Linked DNA regions of Homo sapiens: region 1 is linked to region 2. The links come from fine-mapping of genetic effects on gene expression. Tissue or cell type: esophagus muscle. Region 2 holds a variant in brackets; the other region holds the start of a gene. All regions are shown on one strand. Distances are between the middles of the regions.

The links. PIP is the estimated chance that this variant, and not a neighbour inherited with it, causes the effect. A credible set is the group of variants that fine-mapping cannot tell apart.
Region 1: LINC02147 starts here. The variant in region 2 is the best candidate, but not a certain one, in a credible set for the expression of LINC02147 in esophagus muscle (GTEx, PIP 0.76).

The regions. Positions count from the first base shown.
Region 1 is chr5:117,727,816-117,732,972 of GRCh38, reverse strand. It overlaps LINC02147 (long intergenic non-protein coding RNA 2147), which reads right to left and starts at 2,612. Exons shown (of 3, transcript NR_104997.1): 1 at 2,565-2,612.
Region 2 is chr5:118,225,545-118,230,701 of GRCh38, reverse strand. All of the region lies in intron 2 of LINC02147 (long intergenic non-protein coding RNA 2147), which reads right to left. Among named protein-coding and RNA genes, the nearest start is that of LINC02148, 54 kb to the left of the region's middle. The variant G/A (reference allele first, on the strand shown) is at 2,920.

The sequences.
Region 1 (5,157 bases), 500 kb after region 2:
AGTCTGAGGCCTGTTGAGAACTGGGCTTCACATCAGGAGGTGAGCGGCTAGCAAGTGGACAAAGCTTCATCTATATTTACAGCCACTCTCCATCACTGGCATTACCTCCTGAGCTCTAACTCCTGTCAGATCAGCAGCAGCACTGGATTCTATTAAGAGCAAATACAAACCCTATTTGAAGTGCACATGTGAGGGAGCTAGGTTGCGAGCTCCTTATGAGAATCTAGTGCCTGATGATCTGTCACTATCTCCCATCACCCCCGGATGTGACCATCTGATTGCAGGAAAACAAGTTCAGGGCTCCCACTGATTCTACTTCACGGTGAATTGCATAATTATTTCACTATATATTACAATGTAATAGAAATAAAGTGCTCAACAAATGTAATGCACTTGAATCATCCTGAAACAATTTCCCCCCACCCCAGTCTATGGAAAAATTGTCTTCTACAAACCCAGTCACTGGTGCCAAAAAGGTTGGGGACCACTGACACAGAGGCATGAGAAGGCAGATTGTCCAGGATCACTCAAGTGTAGTGGAAGAATTTAAACAGAGTAATCCAGAGGGCAAATAGAAGTTCAGGTTCAGGCCCCTAATGGTCCACCGCAGAATACAGTGACAGCTTACTAAGGCAGTGACAACTGGGACGGAAAGGAGAGAATACATGAGATGTTTAGAAGGTAGAATTAACACAAATTGTTGAAATTGAGCAATGGTGAAAATAAACCCTCACCCGTAATTCAGGACTCGCTCATATTAACTATGAATACATTCATGAAGAAAATTGAATAATGTATTTGAAATAACTGTGCCATCAGGACATATGGCTACTGTAAACCAAAAATTACCTCTGACTTAAATGGCCACTAATTATGTGGCACAACTTCTTTTTCAAGAACTGAGAAGGGATGAAAACACACACGCACACACACACACACACACACAAGCAAATTACAATGAAAAGAGGTACATGTTGGGGTGGAAGGAACAGTAAAATCCTTTGAACCATTCAAATACCTACATGATTTTATAAACCACCTTCCCGTATACTATTTGGTGAATTATCATTAAAAATCTCAAGCAAATCAGGCAGGAACATCATGAAAAAGTCAAATGATTGCAGGTAAAGAAAATTGTTTTAAATAAATGTAGCTTCACTAAACAAAATCTGCTTAATAATTTTGGCTGAAAGCTGCAGATAATATGTAGCAATAGGAGCAGGGAACTTAACATCTCTGCCAAGCAAAAAGAAACAATTCAGCAAGCAACAGTGAACTGATATGCACTAAATAAACAACCAGGCAGAAACACCGCTGTGAGAAAGAGCTTTTTATATAGCTAAGCCAAGCTGGATGGCTTAGAGTTGGAGAAAGAAGTGCTAAATATGTAACAGCCTGGGGCCTCGCTGGACCCAAATAATAGTTATTTCTGAGTAGGTCAAGCAAAAGTCAATAAAAAGGAAAGCAGGAATGGCTGTTGGGTTCATAATAGGACAATAATGCCCTTCTGGGAAAAATGTGAGTTTCAAATAGCCAGAATCGAATACTTAAGTTTCAAATGCTTTATCATAGACCACCAGTTCTGGAAATATCAGTAGAATAGCTAGAAAATAGGTAAATTCTGCCAACCAGAATAATCCCTAATACAGATTCCCTAAGCCAGTGTTTTTAACATGAGTAGAAGAATCACCTGCAATGGAATTACAAGGAAGCTTATTTAGTGGAAATTCCTGGATACCAGCTCAGACTTACCACATCAGAATTTCTAAGGAAGAGGCCTGGTAATTTAATTTTTAATTAAATTTTCAAAAGATTCTTCTGTCTTCTAACACCAGAGAACTTTTATTTTTGCGTATTTTGCATTTTGCTTTGCTTTCAAATGCCATCGTTCACAGATTAGATTCGTCAGAGAGAGAAAGGGAGATAGAAAGGGAGGGAGGGAGATCCGATAGATATATAGCCAATTTCTGGCCCAATTTTTCTTTTGCAGCAAGCAAAGGCTAAAGTAACACTCTGTAACACTTTATAACACTTTATAACACTCTATAAAGCACTAATTAGAAAACAGGTTATTCTGAGATAAAAGAACGTACAGCGAACAATTACTTTATAATCAAGTGTCAGATTGTATGGAGCAGAACATGCCCACTGTATTAGTCTGTTCTCACACTGCTACAAAGATACTACCTGAGACTGGGCAATTTATAAAGAAAAGAGGTGTATTTGTCCGTTTTCACGCTGCTGATAAAGACATAACCCAGACTAGGCACTTTACAAAGGAAAGAAGTTTAATGGAGAACTCACAGTTCCACGTGGCTTAGGAAGCTTCACAATCATGGCAGAAGGCAAAGAGGAGCAAGTCACATCTTACGTGGACAGCGGCCAGAAAGAAAAAAAGAGCTTGTGCAGGCAAACTCCTGTTTATAAAGCCATCAGATTTTGTGAGCTTAGGAACAGCATAGGAAAGACCCTCCCACCGCGTCCCTCCCACAACACGTGGGAATTCAAGATGAGATTTCGGTGGGGACACAGCCAAACCACATCAAGAGGTTTAATTGACTCACAGTTCCGCATGGCTGGGAGGCTTCAGGAAACTTCCAATCATGGCAGAAGGCTAAGGGGAAGCAAGTCACATCTTAAATAGTGGCAGGAGAGAGACAGAGTGAAGAAGGAAGAGCCACTTTTAAAACCATCAGTTCTCCTGAGAACTCACTATCAAGAGAACAGCATAGGGGAACCACCCCCAGGATCCAATCACCTCCCATCAGGTTCCTTCCTTGATACATGGGGATTACAGTTCAAGATGAAAGCCTAACCATATCACCCACAAAGGTGAATCAGAAGCTGGACTTCTCTGTGATTTCTTCCATTCTTCAGTATTCCTGAATCCCTTCCAGTAAAGTTTCTATACAACAATCTATCAGTAAGGCATTATCATTTAACAAACCTTTTAAAAATTATACAGGAAAACATTTGTTGAAGAATTTGGGATAGTATCATCTATAAAAATTTACTTAAGATGATTTTTTTTCCTTTGCTGGTAGGAGAGAAAGCAAGATAATAAATGCACTTAGTAGAATATCATAGTAAACAAATTGTTTAAAGATATATACTTTACTCTCCCGTAAGACTATGCATCTCTTGTACAGACATCCTGGTGAGAAAGTGGAACCCTAAATGGAACACTGAGCTTCAGGCATTTTTATTGGACCTCCGAGGAAAGGTACAGGCAAGTGGGGTCAGGTGTCTGGGATGATTGCAGTTGTCAGTTAAACTCTTGATATAGTTTGGCTGTGTCCCCACCGAAATCTCATCTTGAATTCCCACATGTTGTGGGAGGGACCCGGTGGGAGGTAACTGAATCATGGCGGCAGGTCTTTCTTGTGCTGTTCTCATGATAGTAAGTCTCACAAGATCTGATGGTTTTAAAAACAGAATTTATAAACTTGTGAATATATGGGTATGATGCAAACCCTAAAATCATAAATTCATCTAATAATTGTGATATCTATCTCTATAAGGCATGTATTGAGGGTGAAATTGAACCTGAAGATTTGTTAAATGAAACTATGAAATAAGTTTGTAAAGACATATGCATACTTCACCAACCTGCTCAAATTTAGATCGGCAAACCCTTTCCTCTTGATGGGAATGAATGAATGAAATCTGAATTATGGTCTGCTATTTCTTCTACCAAAAGCCATAAGCTTGAGCCAATAGGTGTGTAATAATTTTCAATGCTATTATTAACAGTGTTTATTTAGTTAATGCTCCTGATGAAATAACAATTTTTGATCTAGATTCTTTAGAGAGTGTTATTTAGAAATTAAGTTTCAAAATTCAAAAATTATTTTAAAAAAGAGTAAACTAGCAGACTCATCTCTTAAATATTAGAGTCACTTCTACATCCCAAACTCTAACCACCCAGCCAAATTTATTACTAATGGGTAGGTACAGAGGGTGTTTAAGAAAAAGATATAGATTACAGCTTTGCTTTATTCTATTTGAAAATTACTCAGCTTTGTGCCCAGCTGAACTCACTAAATTTCAGCTGTACCCAACATAGAATGTGAGGTGGATTCAGTTCTGTCCCACAGCTGACCAGCAACTACAGAAAGATTGAAGCCACTGACCTCAGGGTATGACTATAACCTCGGGGACAATAAGTAAGCAGGTAGTCCCCAGGTTGGGGCCAGACTTAAATGCTCCCATCAGAACTTCCTTGAAGAGCATAAATGTCCTATTAGTATATTTTATTTCTTTGAGATTTGTTATAGTGAAACTTTAGTAGCAAAAACATTCAAAAATATTTATGACTTAGAAAATACTTTGACTCACATTTTCCTCACCAATTTGGTTGTAATTTGGATAAAATATGAAACAGTCCCTTTTTACTTCTAAAGAAAAAAGAATGGAGAATTTTCCACAAAGAGTTACCAGTGATAACCACCTTTGTGAATTAACTATAAAAAAGAAATACCAACATTATGAGTCCTGGGCAGACTATTCATCCTTCTTTTCCATCACTTTATCTCTCTAAGAAAAAAAACACAGTTACAGGTTAACTAGGAAAATCTATAATTTAAAAAAACCTTTTTTTTTTTTTTTTGTAGAGCTTTGTATCAAAGAGCAATTGCATTCCACCTATGTACCACAGTAATACTGGTCAACATCTGTTTTTTCCACATATCTCCTAAAAAGTTATGTGTAGTCTTCCTAAAAATTGTCTAACAAGCAGTACTGAAATAGTTGTTAAAGTATTATAACAAATAATGCTCCTTTTCTCTTCCAGGTACTCAAAAATCCTGATCCATAGGAAAAATCCACATCCAAATGCAAGGTTTGCTCAAGTTCATTTTCATTATAATGCAGGCACTTTATATCACTTCAGGGCTTCTACCAGGAGAAATATTAGAAATATTAAAATATTTATTTTTGTTCGTCTTCCTTTTTTGGTAACAGACCTCAGTACATTTGCAGAATGTCTTGTAGACCCAGAACATGCTGGGTGAAAACAACTTTTGCATATTTTTGCATGGCTAGTAAGAAGCCATTCTTTAAAAGCATATCACCTGTCAGCATTACTTTCCAGAAAATATTTTCAGTTCTGTGCAGCTGCATTTTACTTCCTCCATCCTTGGTATAAGTGTTCAACCA
Region 2 (5,157 bases):
ACATTAAGCTAACAGATACCCATATGGATCTTGATCTTTTAGGTAGACACTTAAAGCCCAGTTCACAAGTCACTTTGCTTCATTGCAGACATAGTCATCCTTTATTTTTCATTAATCAATTCACTAAATACTCATTTCTTTAACAAAGGTTTTTTGGGTACCTACTATGTACTAGGTATCCAGGACTAAACACAACAGACAAAATTTCCTGCCCTCGAGAAACTTATTTCAAATAGAAGAAGACAGAAATCAATAGATGAGTAAATACATATAGTTTGCCACATGCTAGTAAGCACTGTGCAGAAGTCTAAAGCAGGGAGGGGGAAAGGGTGCACTGAATTAGAACAGAAAAGGAGGGAGTGTTACAGTTTAAGTAGGGTGTCAAGGAAGGTTTCCTTGGAAAGGTGACATCAGAGGAAATACTTGAGGGAAAGGAAAAGAGTCTTGTGTATTGGGAAGGAAATTGGTCCAAAGAATGGAAATACTAGGCACAAAGGCACAGGGGTGGGAGAGTGCTAATGAGTTCTTAGAATTGCAAGGAAGCTGCGTGTAAGGAACATCTTGAGCAAAAAGGAGAGGCAAACTAGATGAGGCAAGAAGGGCAACTGGGGTTGCGGAAAGATTAATAGATCTTTGAGGAAAAAAACAGATTGGAAGATTTTGAGTAGGGAAGTAACATGATGTTACTTGTGTTTTAGTGGGATCATTCTGCTCCTGTGTTTGGAATCAGAATGAAACATGGGGTCGGAGTGGGGGCGGGGGGGGCAGCAAATGTAAAGGAAGACAAGTTGGGAGGCTGTGTTAATATTGTTAGTATTTATTACACAAACAGAGTGATACACACCTGCTGCAAGATTTGTGTGTGGTTTTTCAGAGTCATTTTCACTATGGAATGATTTATGCGATATACACGGAAGGTATTTTTTTGTTTTCTCACCACTTTTAATCTACGTGCATGTTTTAAATTACTTTGCTTTTGTTTCAGCTGTGATTGTTAGCTCTCTTAGTAGAAATTTAAATGTTTTCTTAAACCAAGAGTTACCAAAGATACAGCAAATAAGGCTGGTAAAACATCTCAAAACTAAGCCAACCTCACTAACTAGTCTGCAGATAGAGACCAACATAAAATATCACAGGGTCTAAAATTACAAGGCACTAATGCTAATGCCAACTCTAGATAGTGGGCATGTTGATCTACTTTTTCTGTGGAGTAAAGTCAATGTAATTTTGTATGTGTCTATAAATATGTATAAGTTGAAAACATTTAAGTAGAACAGCCCCTATCCACATTTTCATTAACCTGCATGTGTATAACTATGTCTATATTTATGTGTACAGATATATTCACTTTGAAGTACATTTGCTGTCCCAAAATTATAGCTAGCCCGTTTTAAAAAACTGACTATGTATTGTGGCTGTCTCTAATCCCATAACAATGCCAAATTTCCCAAGGCCTCATTTCATATTGTGTTCCTGCATGTCTGACTGAAGGGTTTATTTCATACTTCTATACTAAAGTGCAATGAAAGCTAAAACCGTAACAGGGGGCAGTTCTTTCGCTTATTCTCAAAGGATTTATCTGAAGTCAAAAGGATAGAAACAGATTCATAAGCAACTTTCAGGCTATAATTTTTTTTGCCAGAAAAACCTAACTAGAGCATTTAGTATAGAAAGAAGAATGAGAAATACTACATGAACCCCCAAAAATGAGTCTATGAGGAAAAAAAGAGAAACAAAAGATATAGCCCAATTTTGATATCCACAGATAATAAAAGGAATATGTCTTATGTGCCCAGAAATTATTAGGATTTACATCCTAGAGATTGGATGACCTCATTGCTCCAAGGAATCCAGGCTAACTGTAAGTGAGCAATCAGAGAACTACTGACAAGCCCATCACTTCTTCCTGGGCAAGAATTTCTAAACTACAGTTCGCTTAGCAATTCCCCTCCATGGGCATAGGGGAACTTCCCCTTGTGTGTGCTGTCCTGTGGGAGAGCTGTGTTTGTTCTTGTCTGAATCATTGTTGCAGTTGCTGTCTTGTTCTGCCAAGGACAGTGCTCAGCACAGGGAGATAGAGTAGAAGAATAAAATCTGCTTAGAAACAAATCTAGTTAGAAACAAGGGACGTAATTCAGGAATCTCAGGAAATGGAGAGTGCTTGATGATAATGAGAAGCCATATAAGGGAAATACATTCTAATACTTAGGTGACATGCACGCAAAGAGAATAAGAGTAAGAAGCTGTTGTACAAGCCATCTTTCAATTGTTCCTGGATTCAATTTCTCATTAGGTTATTTGCCTTGTGTCCTCTCCCACTAGTAATGTTTTTCAAAATGGAGAAATACTTTAAATTATAAAGGTATACAGATCTGATATAAAAGTTGTAACAAAAAGTGTGTGAAATAGAAAATTATCTTCCAATTCTATAAATCCACTCCTCAGAGATAACCATTACACACATACATATATATGTATCACACACACACACATATATCTCTCACACACATATATCTCACACATATATATATCGCTCACACACACACACTTATATATTTGGCTTACCAAGACAATTAATATATAAACATACCTTAGAGTACAAATACGAAACTACAAATAATTTTTTTAACTTTTATTTTAGGTTGAGGGATACAAGTAAAGGTTTGTTATATAGGTAAACTCATGTCCTGGGGGTTTGTTGTAGAGATTATTTCATCACCCAGGTATTAAGCCTAGTACCTGCAGGTGATTTTTTCTGTTGCTTTCTCTCCTCTCACCCTCTATACTCCATTCTGAAGTAGGCCCCAGTGTCTGTTGTTCCCCTCTTTATGCCCATGTGTTCTCATCATTTAGCTCCCATTTACAAGTGAGAACATGCAGTATTTTATTTTCTGTTCCTGCATTAGTTTGCTAAGGTTG[G/A]TGGCCTCCAGCTCCATCCATGTTCCTGCAAAGGACATGATCTTGTTCTTTCCTATGTAGTACTCTATAATATACATGTACCACATTTTCTTTACCCAGTCAACTGTTGATGGGCATTTAGATTGATTCCATGTCTTTGCTATTGTGACTAGTGCTGCAATGAGCATTTGTGTGCATGTGTCTTTACGGTAAAACAGTTTATATTCTTTTGGGTATATATACCCAGTAATGGTATTGTTGGGCCAAATGGTAGTTCCACTTTTAGCTCTTTGAGGAATTGTCACATTGATTTCCACAATGGTTGAACTAATTTACACTCCCATCAACAATGTATAATCATTCCCTTTTCTCTGCAACCTCATCAGCACCTGTTATTTTTTGACTTTTTGATAGTAACTATTCAGACTGGTGTAAGATGGTATCTCATTGTGGTTTTATGTGTATTTCTATAATGATCAGTGATACTGAGCTTTTTTTCATATGCTATTGGCCACATGTATATTTTCTTTAGAAAAGTGTCTGTTCATGTCCCTTGCCCACTTTTAGTGGGCTTTTAGGGGTTGTTTTTTCTTGTAAATTTGTTTGAGTTCCTTAAAGATGCTAGGTATTAGACCTTTGTAAGATGCATATTTTGCAAATATTTTCTCCAATTCTGCAACTTATCTGTTTACCCTTAAACAGATAGTTTACTCAATAACAATTCATTTCCATGTTCGTATCTTATTTATTGTATTGGCTGCAATGATATCCATTATATAAAACTATTATTTTTTTAACCTAGTAAGTTGCAACCCAATTTTTATATATATGTAAAATATATATGTATATACACACACATATATATATATAAATTAGGTTGCATATATATACATAATATATAAATTGGGTTGCGACTTACTAGGTTAAAAAATATAGCACTTTTGTATAAGTATAATGTGTATATATATTTACATGTATATATCAGGTTGCATATGTATCTTTGCCTATGTCTATGTTTTTTTTAGATTAAATTCAGAGAATATACATATTGTAATTTGGATACATGCTTTCATATTGCCCACTAGAAAAGTGATATAATTTGTAGTCTTACCAGAAGAGAGTTTACAAAAGTGCCATTTTTTAATATAAAAGTCAACATTAAAATTTATTATTATATGCTATATTTTCATAATAAAAATTGGTCTGGCTTTTTTTTTGGGTTTATACAGTCTTGTCAAAATAGAAAGCTAGAAGCCATACTACTGATGTCTGAATAATATTGTCATAGAAATCTATGGCAGTGTTGAGGGGAGAGGAAGATGAAGTTTTCATTAACGAAGGAAATGAACAATAGGTGAAGATTCCACATGGGAATGTGTTGTGTGTTGATTAAGGGCAATTTGGGGGCATCAGGAAATACAGGTAACTTCTCTTGGAGCTGTTAGAAATGATATCTCATGTGAGAGGAGCAAGGCTGGGGAAGAAAAAGGGGACAGCCCTCAGAAAGTACATGCTGCGCTAAATATCCTCCATAAGGTGTTTGAAGAGAAAAACTTCTAAAGGACTCAGCAACTCATTATTTCTAAGATGCTGCCACAGTAGTTCATTTTAGGAAATATGTGTGTGGCTAGAAAAGCAGAATAAAAATTAGGAGTACCTAAGAAAATTTTTCCTCCCAAATATATTTTCCATCACATAGTAGTCATCTAATTCACTGTATCTCTACCTTGAAAAACTGCAAACACTTTTGGAAGAGGTCTACTTTAGCCAAAGTTCATGAAAAGTTACTCGCTACGCATGGCTTATTATCCTACTGAGCATGAGTACAAGCTTAGAATCATTCTTAACTGACTGGTATGGGTGAATATTAGCAACAGATCAGTCAGCCCGTTTAGTAAGCATACGTATTTATTCCTTTTATCTATATTTTATACATTTTTTTATCAACGACCATATCAACTCTCATTCTGAGTGTCGATTTGTGACAGAAGGCAAAGGAAAGAAAAACAGATTACATAAAGGAGTCTGTAAGTGTCAACAATAAACTTTTTCATAATTTTGTGAAGGATTTTAACCATGAATTACATCTGGTTTCAGGAGTCCTGAAGAACAACATTTTTATTCTAGAAAATATATTAGAAGAAAAGTATTCCCAATATGTCCTATAGCTAAACTTACATATTATCGAAGCAGAAAAGAAAAAATTAGACGGAGAAGGAGAGACATATGGAAAACCATGAGAAATATGAAACTGTCTGT